Homo sapiens: one gene and its partner. The protein of the gene in region 2 interacts with the protein of the main gene of each other region in a pairwise test. Each region holds a gene or a part of one and is shown on either strand. Other genes may lie near its edges.

Region 1 (7,363 bases), on a different chromosome or scaffold from region 2:
AGGGCTTGCCATTTATCCTTTGGCTGTAGCCAGAGCTGCAGAGACCAGACTAGAGCTGTGCTCCTGCAAACTGAACACAGGCACTGAAACAACTCACAGACATCAAATTTAATTTCCTGATTGTCAATACCAGACAGGAATGACAATCAGCATCTTTTTCATTGTCCTTAATAAAATAAGTTAAGCATTGTTTTATGCCAACGGCCTCTTACAGAACAAGACAAACTCATTAAATGAAAACAATTCTTTAGAAACCAAAGGCCAGGCCTGGTGGCTCACGCCTGTAATCCCAGCACATTGGGAGGCTGAGGCAGGCGGATCACTTGACGTCAAGGGTTTGAGACCAGCCTGGCCAACATGGTGAAACCCTGTCTCCATTAAAAATACACAAATTAGCTGGGTGTGGCGGCATGCACCTGTAGTCCCAGCTACTCAGGAGGCTGAGGAATCGCTTGAACCCAGAAGGCAGAGGTTGCCGACTGCGTCACTGCACTCCAACCTGGGCAACAGAGCAAGACTCCATCTCAAAGAAAACAAAAACAAAAAAACCCAGAAATCTACGAGAAACTAGACTGGGTAGCTTATGCTTATCTTTCTTAGAAAAGCATTTAACCCTTAACTAGCTGCCTCTGCCAATATTTCTAGGCACTGATTGTCCAGCTACCTAGCCTGGGTGCTTGTCCACCAACTGGCCCTAGTTTTTTCATTTCCCAGCTAATTCTGAATGGCCCAAATCCTCTTGATCTTTCTAGGTCCACCTCAAAGTTTACTTCACGAGTTTCGGGCTGAGCAAGGTGGCTCACACCTATACTTCCAGCACTTTGGGAGGCCAAGGTGGGCAGATCACCTGAGGTCAGGAGTTCAAGGCCTGGCCAACAACATGAAACCTCGTCTCTACCAAAAATACAAAAATTAGCCAGGCGTGGTGGCAGGCAACTGTAATCCCAGCTACTCAGGCAGCTGAGGCAGAAAAATCGCTTGAACCTGAGAGGCAGAGGTTGCAGTGAGCTAACTTCGCGCCACTGCACTCCAGCCTAGGCAACAGAGCAAGACTCCGCCTCAAGAAAAAAAAAAAAGTTAGTTTCTGATCCTAACCATAACAAAATCCTGAACAGTTGGTATACCACTATGGCAATTCAGTCCTGCCACATTTTCTAGCCTATTGCTTCCTCTAAGTACATTCCTTACAGGCAGAAACTATTAATATATTCGCACTTATGCCAGGTGCGGGTGGTTCACGCCTATAATTCCAGAACTTTGGGAGGCCGAGGAGGATGGATCACCTGAGGTCAGGAGTTCAAGACCAGCCTGGCCAACATGGTGAAACCTTGTCTCTACTAAAAATACAAAAATTAGCTGGGCATGGTGGCGGGCACCTGTAATCCCAGCTACTAGGGAGGCTGAGGCAGGAGGATTGCTTGGACCTGGGAGGCAGAGGTTGCAGTGAGCAGAGATCGCACCACTGCACTCCAGCCTGGGCGACAAGAGTGAGACTCTGTCTCAAAAACATATATATATATAATCTACCTTTCCTCCTTGCCACAGATGCAGCTAGAGCCTAAACGGAGAAGGTGCCAGTTAACTAGCCTTTGGTGATTTTAGCATTGAGACTCCGGTGCTAGCAGTGATTCCAGTCCACCTGATTCAGGCCACAGGAATTCTCCCAGAATCTTCACTACAAGTTGAAACTCCAAATCCTTAATCCTAGAGAGTAAATGCACTTAGGGTCAATGCACACCTAAGTATACCTTAGGTGCGCGACAGGTCTATTTCCTGTCAGAATCCCTAGATGAAAAGAGGAAGTAGATGGACACCCTTATCGGTCAAGCGCTGATGGAACACTCATCTACAAATGAGATACACATGCTGAGACCCTAAGCTGACCCAAGCTGATGGTGCTATCGAGACAAACCACTTTATCACATATTCATCAGCAGTCTCGGAGTTTTTCTTCCCATTCCCTCCCGTAGCGGCTCACCTTTGAGGCAGGAAAGAAGCAGTTCAGGCGGAAGCCACAATCTTTACAAAGCAGGCTTCAGAGAAGCTCACCATTCATCAGCCAGTGAGGGCTGTCACCTGCTAGTTGAGAACTAAACTCAGACATCAGATTCTTCCACAAAGGCCTCCTCACCAGCTGTCCGATGGGTACGGCGTTCAAACGACTCAAAACAGCACAACAAGCCTGGTTTTATTTCTGATGGTCCCCATCAAGGGAACTGAAACTACATGCCTCTAGATTACCTTGCGATCACTCCTCATTTTATTAAAAACATGAAGAAAGAATCCACCCCATTCCGGATATTTACCAAGCTTGACACAGGGAACACCACTATGCCATTTAACTTTGTGGACGTACGTGAGTCTCTCCCTCCCACCTTTCTGAGATGTGTTTCACTGCCAAACGGAGAAGAAACGCAAACACTCCCCAAAGCCGAAAAATGGCAAACGACCAAGATGTTTCCCGTGCCAAATCCGAATTATCCAGGCCTCGGCTCCAGACGTGGGAAGTCCCGCCATCTCCAAGGCCGGCAGGGAACCCTGGCTCGGGGGACGCGAGTGGGCAAACCCCAGTGTGGGGGGACCAGGCCGAGGTCGGCCGATGCTGGGCGACCCCCGCCAGCAGTTGGGGCGGGGTCTGCACCCTGAGAAGCGGTGAAAAAAGCCGGCGGAGGAGCCGCTCCCGACCAGCACGCTCCCCGCTCCCGGCCCCGCGGGCAGCCCCGACTGGGCCCGACCCCAGCCCGCCCTCCAGCCCCGGCTCACCCCGCCCCGGCGGGCAGCTGCGCGCCCCGGGCCCAGCCGGGCCAGCTGCTCGGCGGACGCCCGCGGTCGCGCTGGGCTCACTCGTGGCGGCGCGTGGCGGGCCCGAGGCCGCTAGGCACCATCTTCTCCCCGCGCCGGGGGCAGCGTCTGGCTCCGCGGGGCCGACGCGAAGACCAGACGCCAACCGGGCTCCCGCCGCCGCCTCAGTTCGGGCTCCGGCAACCGCGGTTTCCGGGTGAAAAAAAAAAAAAAAACCACGCCACCTCCAACGCCGCCGTGACCTCCGACCCCGGGCGTCCGACGGTGGCGCGGCCGGGACAAGCTTCGTCAGAGGCAGGCGGCGGAGACCACGCTTCCGGGACGGGTAGCGTGCATGCGGACGTGCGTGGAGTGCGTGATGGACGTTTATGGGTCTGTGTGCCGGTCTGGTGTTGTGCGTGTGCGTGTGTGCGTAGTGCGTGTATGTGGCTTGTAGTGTGCATCGTGTACAACGGTGTGTGCAGTGAGTGCATGTATGTGCATCTGTGTGCGCGTGTGTGGTGTGTGATGGTATGGGTGTGTGCATGCGTAGATGTGTAGGGAGTGCGCACACGTGTGCATGCTCATGTGTGTGCTATGCGTGTGTCTGTTGATGTGCTTGTATATTAATCACTGCTGATAAACATGTAATTTTGGACCAGGCGCGGTGGCTCAGGCCTGTAATCTCAGCACTTTGGGAGGCCAAGGCAGGAGGATCGCTTGAGTCCTGGAGTTCCAGACCAGCCTGGGTAACATAGGGAGTCTCTGACTCTATTTATAAATAAAATAAAATGAAAATGAAAATTTTTAAAGTATAATTTTGTACAATCACTTTGCAAAGTAATTTGGCATTATGCAGTACACTTAAAGATATACACATCCTCTCTTGAGAATATATTACCCTGGAGAAACAGTTGCACCTATGCACAAGTAGACAAAATAATGCTCATAGCAACACCAATGTTTTTAGCAGCAGTATGACTCACTAAAAATTGGGGAGAAAAAGCAGATGTCCATACAGTCAAATGTAAAAACCAACTTTGATATATTCATGGTTTGGTTTGTTTTTGTAGAGACAGGGTCTCCCTATGTTACTCAAGCTGGTCTCGAACTACTGGACCCAAGTGATCCTCCCACCTCGGGAGGATCTGGGATTACAGGTGTGAGCTGCCACGCCTGGCCCATCTTCGTGTTTAATCGGGTACAAAAGACCAGTGAAAATTATTTAATACAGCTCACACAATTATGGTAGTCAATTGCAGACTATATTGGCAGGGACCAAATCACAAAATGGTACACTGCTACATATTTCCATTATGTAAAATTCAAAACAGGCAAGTTCATAACATATTGTTTAGAGATGCATACATAATTGTTTGAACTGACATGAAGCATGAGAAAAAGATGTATAAACTTCATGTTAAGTGTTAGGGGAATGGGATGGGGGAGGAGTACAGGGTGCTTTAAAGGTAATAAAGTTTTGTTGTTCTTGCTTTTGAGACAAGGTCTTGCTCTGTCACCCAAGCTGGAGTGCAGTCGCATGATCATGGCTCACTGCAGACTCGGCCTCCCAAGCTGAAGTGATCCTCCTGTCTCAGCCTCCTGAGTAGCTGGGACCACAGATGTGCACCATCGTGCCCAGCTAATTTTCATATTTTTCACAGAAATGGGGTTTCCCCCAAATTGCTCAGGCTGGTCTCAAACTCCTGGGCTCAAGTGATCCGCTCACTTCCACCTCCCAAAGTGCTGGGATTACAGGCATGAGCCACCACACCCAGCCATCTTTAACAAAAGTTTATCAGGTGAAGCCTGTAATGTTCAACACAATGGCTCAGTTCCTTCACTGAATACCCTCTTATTTCCATGATTCTTGCCCTCTTTTGTTATCTTGCACCATTTGAATTATCTTCCTTGTTGTAATGGGTGTGACATTATCTGCAAGTGCAGGCAGTATTGAATTGTGTATATAATGATGGAACCAAACTTCCTAATGAGATGTCCCTTACCAGGCTAGGACTGATAATGTAATTAAAGGAGCCCCACCACCAATGGCACCATATATGACTTAGTGATTGAGACCGTAGGAGAATGTAAAAAAGGCAACCTCAAACCTTTCATCCTAGCTGCCTTGTATGGGATTTCAAAAAAAATTTTTGTTTTTGTTTTGAGATGGAGTCTCGCTCTGTCGCCCAGGCTGGAGTGCAGTGGCACGATCTTGGCTCACTGCAACCTCTGCCTCCTGGGTTCAAGCGATTCTCCTGCCTCAGCCTCCTGAGTAGCTGGGATTACAGGCGCATGCCACCACGCCCCGCTAATTTTTGTATTTTTAGTAGAGAAGGTGTTTTGCCATGTTGGTCAGGCTGGTCACGAACTCCTGGCCTCAAGTGATCTGCCCACCTTGGCCTCCCAAACTGTTGGGATTACAGGTGTGAGCCCGAGTCCAGTAAAAAAAAAAAAAAAAAAAAAGAAACCTTTTTAAATAGAGACAAGGTCTCACTGTGTTGCCCAAGCTGGTTTTGAGCTTCTGGCCTTAAGCAATCCTCCTTACTCAGCTTCCCAAAGAGCTGGGATTATACGTGTGAGCTACCATGTCCAGCTGGATTGTAAAATTCTTTTTTTAAAAAAAGATTACATGGTGCAGCCACTTTTAAACAACAATCTGGCAATTTCTCAAAAAGTTTAACATAGAGTTATCATTTGAAGCCAGGTGTGTTGGCTCACGCCTGTAGTCCCAACAGTGGGAGGCTGAGGCAGGAGGATCGCTTGAGCCCAGGAGTTCAAGACCAGCCTGGCCAACATGGTAAAACCCTGTCTCTACTAAAAAATAAAAATAAAAAAATTAGCTGGGCATGGTGGTGGGCACCTGTAATCCCAGCTACTCAGGAGGCTGAGGCAGGAGAATCACTTGAACCTGGGAGGCAGAGGTTGCAGTGAGCTGAGATTGCGCCACTGCCCTCCAGCCTGGGCAACAGAGTGAGACTGTCTAAAAAAAAAAAAAAAAAAAACCATTCTGGAAAACATAGCAAACCCCATCTCATAAATAAATGAACAAGTTCTAAGACATATGGCTTTATTTAAAAAAATAAAAAGTTACTGGCCACATGTGGTGGCTCACGCCTTTAATCCCAGCACTTTGGGAGCCCAAGGTGGGTGGATCACTTGAGGTCAGGAGTTTGAGACCAGCCTTGCCAACATGGCGAAACCCCGTCTCTACTAAAAATACAAAAAATTAACCGGGTTTGGTGGCCGGTGCCTGTAATCCCAGCTACTTGGGAGGCTGAGATGAGTGGCTTGAACCCAGGAAGCAGAGGTTGCAGTGAGCTGAGATCACGCCACTGCACTTCAGCCTGGGCGACAGAGCCAGACCTTGTCGCCAAAAAAAATAAAAGTTACCATTTGACCTCACAATTCCACTCCTGGAGATCCAAGAGAATTGCAAACAAAAATTCCAAACAAAAAGTTGTACAGGAGTGTTTATAGCAGCATCATAATAGCCAAAAAGTGGAAGCAACTCAAATGTTCATCAACTGATTAATGGAAAAACAAAATGTAGCAAATTCACAAGCAGAATGGTATTCAGCCATGAAAAGGAATGAAGAAATAATGCATACTACAGCATAGATGAATGTTGAACACATTATGCCAAGTGAAAGAAGCCAGTCACAAAAGGCCCTGTATTGGATGATTGCGTGTCTATGAAATGTCCAGAATAGACACATTTATGGAACAGAAAGCAGATTGGTGGTTGGGTTGCCTAGGGTGGGTAAGAGGCAATTGGGAGGTGGTAATAGCCAGGGAGTTTCTTTTGGGAGTGATGAAAATATTCAAAAACAGGCAGTGCGCAGTGGCTCATGCCTGTAATCCCACTACTTTGCGAGGCTGAGGCTGGTGGATCACTTGAGGTCAGGAATTTGACACCAGCCTGGCCAACATGGTGAAACTCCATCTGTGTTAAAAATACAAAAAATAGCCAGGCGTTGTGGTGCCTGCCTGTAATCCCAGTTACTCGAGAGACTGAGGCACGAGAATCACTTGAACCTGGGAGGCGGATATTGCAGTGAGCCAAGATCGTGCCATTGCACTCCAGCCTGGGCGACAGAGCAAGACTCTGTCTCAAGAAAAAAAAAATTATGATGATGGTTGCACAATTCTGTGATTAAACTAAAAACCACTGAAGTGTACACTTTTAATTGAGTTAATTGTATGTATGTTAATTAGATCTAAACAAACTTTTTTTTAAGGTTAAGGCTTTACAAAAGAAATAAAACCAAAACAAGAAAAGGGATAAAAATATAGGCTCTAATCATGTGGAAATCCTTAGACAGTTAATTTTTAAATGGCATGAAAAAGAAGGAAATTGACAAAGAGCCTACAAAACTTTGAGATAATTTTCTAGGAATCTGGGGTTCCCACCGTGAAGTCTCCTCAAACTCCTTAGCATATACAGTTCTGAGGCTTAGAGAAGTTTCAGAAAGAAAATTCTTCCAATGAACCTACAGCATTGAATGCCAAAATACCCATGTTTGTTTGGGTTTTTTTATTTATTCATTTTGAGACAGGGTCTTGTTCTGTTGCCCAGGTT
Region 2 (7,675 bases):
GTGGCGGCAGCATAGATGACAGCCAGGCTGGCTTCTCTTGGTGCAGCTGGAGATGGAGGTTGTGGAGAGGGGAACTCTAGAGAGGGGTCTTAAGAGGGAAGCTCATGGCCCTGTTCCATTCCCTTGTTGGACAGATGAAGAGACTGAAGTCTCAAAGGCAGAGTTTGAAGCAAAAGCCAGATGGCACAACCCTCGGTCCATAGCTACAGCCATGCTTTTCTCTGGGGTTTCCTACCCTGTTTAGGGGTGCTCGTAGCATTTAGGCTTGCAACCAAGGAAGCTAAATGTCCTCTACCACAAGGAACCGTTGCACCCCAAATGCTAGTACTTATGGAGAAACACGGCCCTAACGTGATTTTAAGTTGACACATGGGCCTTGGAATGGGTTTTCCATTTTCTTGAGTTTCTCCTCTGGGCCAGGGACTTAACTCTGACAGGATATGCTCTTTACTGAACCATGCCAGGCCTCAGTGTCCTCATTTGGGTGAGATCAACCTGCAAGGGTTGTGCAGGCAACAGCTTGGCGTGGAGGAAGAGTGTGCTTGAGCCCCGCGTGTCCCCCAGCTCACTGTGCGGTCTGTGCTCCATCTCCACCTCGCCTCCAGACCTTAAGCTGTGCTGTTTCTTTTGCCCGGAACACCCGCCCTGCACCTTAAACTCCATCTTCAGGACCCAGGCTCAGGGGAGCTCTTCCTACACTCCCTGACCAGGCTGGAATCCCCGCCTCAGCCTCTTGCAGGCCCCAACATTTCTCATTTAGAATACCTGTACCTATAATTCCACAAACACTGGTGCAATTATGTGTGGTTTCCTTTCAAAGACGGGGGCCCACATTCTGTGCCAAATATGCAGTAGGCACTCAATAAATACTGTACTGAAAGAACCAAAGGGAAGTCAAGGAAGCTGGTCCCAAAATGTCAACATTGGACAACCCCTTCTAGTTCTCAGCTCGGAGCTCCCTCCCCAGTCCTGTGGCTCTAGACATTGCCTTACACTTTCTGGGGCACTAGATGCTGTCTGGCTGGAGGAGGGTCAGAAAGGATGGTTGGGTTCGAGTAGAAACATCTGAACTTTCTTATTCTTCTTGAAGTGGCAGGTAAACTCACAGAGCCCAGGTAAACTCACACACTACCAAGGCAGGTGTTTTAGGCAGATGGGTGCCCCCACAGGCAGCTACCTTGGCTAGGTTGCTGGTGGAGACGGTCATGGTGAAACAGATTGGGTATACAGGAGCCATAATCTCAAGGAACATGGCTACGTCATTGAGGATGTCCGCAAAAAGCCTGGGGAGGGATCAGAGGTTAGAGGTCAGAGGTAGGAGACTTTCATAATGGAAGACTCCCCTCCCCCGTCCCCGCCCCTCCTCACCTCCACTGCTTGGCATTGCAGTCCAGTTTGCTCCTGTTGGGGAGGAGAGGTTGTTGTAATTTGGACTTAAGGAGAAACACATCCTATGGGCAGTGTGGGGAGTCTTGGACCACAGTAAAGTCTGAAGAGCTCAGGAAAACCCACACCCCCAGACAGACATCTGTCCCCACAGCCGGTCACTGCTACCTAAAATGCCACCATTAGCTGGGAGAACCTTCAGTGACTGACTGATCACCTAGTGTCTCCCGCTTATGAACTCATGATTTACCAAGGAAAAACCCTGATTGTCTTGTGGCTGCTCCCCAGCCTCTGTCTGTCCTTGGAGGGAGGCTCTTCCTGAGTTCCTCTGCCTCTCTCCGTTCTTCTTCTTGCTTTAGAGTGAGGGTACCCAGTGAGCATGTTTTGGACTAGTAAACATCACATTGAGTGTGTAACCCTGCATGTTACAGACAACTAGCCCTCACAGGGGATATGATTTCCCTGGATCACACGCAGAGTTGGGGAAAAGGCTAAGAGAGCCGGGCTCCGACATCCAGGCCTAGGGTACTTCTGTTACACAACACCGTGGACGGCTACCTCACCTGCCCTTTTCGTCAGACAGTGACTCCCTGCCCTGTGCACAAACACTTGGAAACAACTTCTCTAGGGTCCCAGTGGCAGGAGATACTGCAGCCCCAGCCCAGCTCAGGATTTGCAGCATTAGGCCCGAGTCTCAGTATGAGATCTCCTGGAGGGAATGGGAATATTCTTGGGAGAGGTATCAGACACACATAACGAGATCCTGAACACATGGCCTGGTTGAGGGTTCTGCCCAGTGAACTGCCCAATACCATGGAAAGCACAGGCTTCAGGTTCAAATCCCATCTCGCTAGTTATAAGCTGTGTGGTTTGGGCAGGTAACTTCCCTCATGCAGGTATATTTCACATTTATGAAATGTACACATCCAATCCCATCCTACAGAGTTGCTGTAAGGATTAGAGACAACATACAGAGGCTCAGGGGGCACAGTTACAGCTGTTAATGGTAGCTAGTGTTTACTGAGCCATTATGTACGATGCCACGGGCATTAAGCACTTTGCATAGATCATCTCATGGAACCCTTACAGCCACAATTAATGGCAATACTATTACTATCATTACTACCACTACTGGGAAGAGTTGCCAGAGTTGCTGGCCGGGAAGACAAACTCACCCTTTCCACCAGGCAAAGACGATGCGGCCCAGCATGCCAGTTGAATCTGGGGGAAAGAAGGCACAGGTAAGGAGCAAGGAAGAGGTGTGGGAGCTGTGGGGCCTGGCAGACCCTGGCACTGAACTGGCCAATTCACTGAGTCACTGCCTTTGGGAACTCGGTCTGGTACTAGAAGTTGTGGATAGTCATAGCTACATAATGGGGTCAGAAGTGCCTACAAATAGCAGTTCCTCAATATGTCCCCTAGGAGACATGGACAAGAAATGTTCTTTGCAGAATTGTTCATAACAGCAAAAAACCTGGGAATAATGCAAATGTTGACTGACAGAATACATAAATTCTAGTATATTCACCCAGAGGCATTCATTCATAGATGAATACTATTAAACTCTTGCATGAAAATAACTCATGAAGACCACATACAGCACAGTTTGCAAAGCTCTAAAATTAAAACTAAACAATATAGCACTTAGGAATATTTACCTATTTGGTAAAACTATTCAAAAAAGCAGGAAATCTTAAGTGGAAATTCAAAGGTTATTGCTAACCTGTTCTAGCTCTTAGGCTGGGCAGTTGGCTCACAGATGGCTATTATGGGATAAATAAATAAAAGGATTTAGGCTGGGTATGGTGGCTCAGGCCTATAATCCCAGCACTTTGGGATTACAGGGGGTTTGGGCCCAGGGACTGCTTGAGGCCAGGAGTTCAAGACCAGCCTGGGCAACACAGCAAGACCCCATCTCTACAAAAAGTAGGAAAGAAATTAGCCAGGCATGGTGGCATGCCTGTAGTCCCAGCTACTTGGGAGGCTGAGGCGGAAGGATGGCTTGAACTCAGGATCAATGCTGCAGTGAGCTATGATCATGTCACTGCACTCCAGCCTGGATGACAGAGCAAGACCCAGTCTCAGGAAAAAAAAAAAAAAAAAGATTTGAACTGCAGCTGGGGTTGCACGGCAGAGGGACAGGCCTCCTTAGGCTGGGCAGAGTAAGAGAAGTCTCTGGAATCAGTGGGACCTTCGTTTGCACAACAAATGCTTTCTGGCTACCTAACTCTCTCTGCCAGGTACTTCATGACCACAGTGACCAAGATGATCCCAGGGTCAAAATCCAGCCAAAGAGCAGATAACAATCAGTATAGAAAACACTGATTTAGACCAGGAATCACTAAACTGTTTCTACTCCCTGGTTTTGGAAATAAAGTATTACTGGAATGCAGCCATGCCTATTTGTTTACAGATTGTCTATAGCTGTTTTTGCAAGACAATGACAGAACTGAGTTGCTGCAACTAAGATTATAAAGCCTGCAAAGCATTAAGATCTGGCCCTTTACAGAAAAAGTTTGTCAATCTGGACCATCCATTATACAGAGAGCAGCACCCATTAAGCCTGGCAGAAATATTTTAGAACGAGACACCTGGGAGGGACTCATACAGTGGACATGGGAGAGGACAGATACCATGGGGAGAGGATTTGGACTTGTCTGAGCTTGAGGGCACTGACCCTGAGGTGGGGATGTAGGAGAAAGGACACTACGTTATGGGAATGAGGGCTGGGAGCTTCCCACGAAACATAAATGCAATGACACGGGCCAGCCCTCCCATTCTCCACTGAGAGCAGATGCATTCTCCCCTTTCCAGAGCCTTCTTGGGCACTGAGTCATGCTTGCCCACCCTGGACTTGAGGGAAATCAGTAAGCGCTCCAGTGCACACCTGAAATACCTGTGCTTTTTCATCTTCACAATGATCCTGAGACTTTGGGAGGGATCATTCCCCTTCACTAAGGCTCCCATTAAATCGGTGAATAAAATTGAGGTATTTTACAAGAAAATATGGATTTCCAGCTTCTCTGGAAGAACCTGAAGATATGGCCACACTGGGGCTGCCCTCTCTCACGGCCAGCATCAGCTGGGGCTACCTCACTGAAGGAAAGCATGGGTCCAAGCTACTGCCATCTGGCCTGCTTTGTTTCTCCATTTCTGTCCTGACTCTGGAAGTAACACCCAACAAGGTGGATTTACAGGCCTCCCATCCCTCACTTTAACCTCTTCCCTTCAAGTACATTATATTCTCGGCAAAATCATCATTGTGCCAGCCACCACACCTGGCTAACTTTTGTATTTTTAGTAGAGATGGGGTTTCACCATGTTGGCCAGGCCAGTATCAAACTCCTGACCTCAGGTGATCCACCCGCCTCGGCCTTCCGAAGTGTTGGGATTATAGGCGTGAGCCACTGTGCCCAGCTCAGACTCTATTTTTCTTCCCTTTAGCTACACACTTGTATCCACTCAGGTGTATGTCCTCCTTGGGCCACCTGACAGAAAGGGAGCCTATTCTACCTTTCCATGGATCATCAGAGGCATTTACAGGACAAATGATATATATACTCCCTAGCATCTGAGTCACTACTGTCCACTAGAATAGAAAACTCCCACTTGCTTTTTTTTCCTCTTCATTTACAACTGGCCAAGCTGTAAGATCTAGAAACATCTGAGTCCTAATAAGGAATCAGCTGACCACAAATTGTACTTGGCTCCACTTGACATTCTTAGCTGGCAAAAGAGTGTGGTAGTTAAGAGTAGAACACAGGAATAAGTCTGCCTAGGTCAAAATCATGGCCCTAAGTGACCTTGGACAAGTTACTTAAACACACTTTTGTCTCTGTTTTTCCATCTAAAAAATGAATAATGGCAGCTAACTAATATGGCTGCTGCAGAGATCAAGACACATATTACATGTAACCATACAAAATGTGTGGCTTAAGGTAGGTTGCCAAAATATTAGCAACAAGTTTTATTACTATTGCTACTCATGACAACTGGCATCACGTTCCACTGAGACAGGTAACTGAAAATGATCACATCAAAAAATCCCAAGTAAGTTTCTCAGATGAAGCTCTGCACAGAAATTTCCCATGTTTGATGAAAATGAGCTTGTAAAATCCTAATTGAGAGCTTCTTTTACTATCAATAACAAGCCTTTATTTATTTATTTTTTTAGATGGAGTTTCACTCGTTGCCCAGGCTGGAGTGCAATGGCGCAATCTCGGCTCACCACAACCTCCGCCTACTAGGTTCAAGTGATTCTCCTACCTCAGCCTCCTGTGTAGCTGGGATTACAGGTGCACACAACCATGCCTGGCTAATTTTGTATTATTAGTAGAGAGGGGGTTTCTCCATGTTGGTCAGGCTGGTCTCGAACTCCTGACCTCAGGTTATCCGCCTGCCTCAGCCTCCCAAAGTGCTGGGATCATAGGCGTGAGCCACCGCACCTGGCCAATAACAAGCCTTTTAAGTAGATTTTTCATCCTTTTTCTTTGAGACAGGGTCTCAGTCTGTCATCCAGGCTGGACTACAGGTGCCTGCCACCACGCCTGGCCAATTTTTGAGTTTTTTGTTAGAGACGGGGTTAAACCATATTGGCCAGGGTGGTGTCCAACTCCTGACCCCAAGTGATCCACCTGCCTCTGCCTCCCAATGTGCTGGGATTATAGGCGTGAGCCACGGCACCTGGCCTTTCTTTTTTTTTTTCATATCTTAAAGTGATCTTGATTTTTCTTAATAACTTGTCTGAGCTAAAGGTTTAGCGTTCCTTTTTTGTTTCAGACAGGATACTGCTCTGCTGCCCAGGCTGGAGTGCAGTGGCACTATCTCGGTTCAGTGCAACCTCCACTTCCTGGGTTCAAGTGATTTTCCTGCCGCTGCTTCCTGAGTAGCTGGGATTCCAGGCACGTGCCACCATGCCTGGCTAATCTTTGTATTTTTAGTACAGATGGCGTTTTACCATGTTGGCTAGGCTGGTCTTGAGCATCTGACCTCAACTGATCTGCCGACCTTGGCCCCCCATCCCAAAGTGCTGGGATTACAGGGATGAGCCACCATGCCCGGCCAAGGTTAAGCATTCCTAATCCAAAAACCTAAAATCTGAAATGCTCCAAAACCTGCAGCTTTTGGGAGTGCAGACACGATGCCACCAGTAGAAACAGCCGATGGTGAAATAGCACAAACTGTTCTTGTAGGGAAAAGAAAGAGATCAGACTGTTACTGTGTCTATGTAGAAGAGGAGGACATAAGAAACTCCATTTTGATCTGTACTAAGAAAATTGTTTTGCCTTGAGATGCTGTTAATCTGTAACTTTAGCGCCAACCCTATGCTCACAGAAATGTGCTGTATGGAATCAAGGTTTAAGAGATCTAGGGCGGTGCAGGATGTGTCTTGTTAACAATATGTTTACAGGCAGTATGCTTCATAAAAGTCATTGCCATTCTCCATTCTCGATTAACCAGGGGCACAATGCACTGTGGAAAGCCACAGGGACCTCTGCCCAAGAAAGCCTGGATACTGTCCAAGGCTTCCCCCTACTGAGACAGCCTGAGATGTGGCCTCGTGGGAAGGAAAAGACCTGACTGTTCCCCAGCCCGACACCTGTAAAGGGTCTGTGCTGAGGAGGATTAGGAGAGATATGCTGGCGGCAATGCTGCTCTGCTACTCTGCTACACTGAGATGTCTGGGTGGAGAGAAGCATAAGTCTGGCCTACGTGCACATCCGGGCACAGTACCTTCCCTTGAACTTATTTGTGACAGATTCCTTTGCTCGCATGTTTTCCTGCTGACCTTCTCCCCACTATCACCCTGTTCTCCTGCCGCATTCCCCTTGCCGAGATAGTGAAAATAGTAATCAATACTGAGGGAATTCAGAGACCAGTGCTGGTGCTGGTCCTCCGCATGCTGAGTGCCGGTCCCCTGGGCCCACTGTTCTTTCTCTATACTCTGTCTCTGTGTCTTATTTCTTTTCTCAGTCTCTCGTCCCACCTGATGAGAAATACCCACAGTGTGGAAGGGCTGGCCTCCTTCAGTTCTGAATCAAGGCAATCATGGTAACAGTGACAATGAAGAGGATACTGTTACCACTACAGAAAAAGTGCCTATAGACAGCACGGTGAGGATGTGGGAGGGGATTACTGTGGCACTAGAGCAGCATACATTCATAACGGAACAAGAAATCAGGCAGTTTATAGAATCCAAGAGAGACTTCTAAGATAGAAACCACAGTTAATGAGGCAAATGACTCTGGAGGAAACATTTTAAAAAGCCATCCAGCAGAACACTTCCTCA

What was found. Proteins that work in one complex are often made in the same cells at the same time.
Region 1: the proteins of RUSF1 (region 2) and TMEM248 interact in binary tests that used the Homo sapiens proteins (3 or more experiments, as listed by UniProt).

What each region holds. Positions count from the first base shown.
Region 1 is NC_000007.14:66,916,862-66,924,224, reverse strand, and holds the start of TMEM248 (transmembrane protein 248), read right to left. Parts: upstream 3,001-7,363; 5' UTR 2,764-3,000; intron 2,392-2,763; exon of another isoform or gene 2,376-2,391; intron 1-2,375.
Region 2 is NC_000016.10:31,498,125-31,505,799, forward strand, and holds part of RUSF1 (RUS family member 1), read right to left. Parts: intron 2,608-7,675; coding exon 2,562-2,607; intron 1,402-2,561; coding exon 1,369-1,401; intron 1,284-1,368; coding exon 1,178-1,283; intron 1-1,177.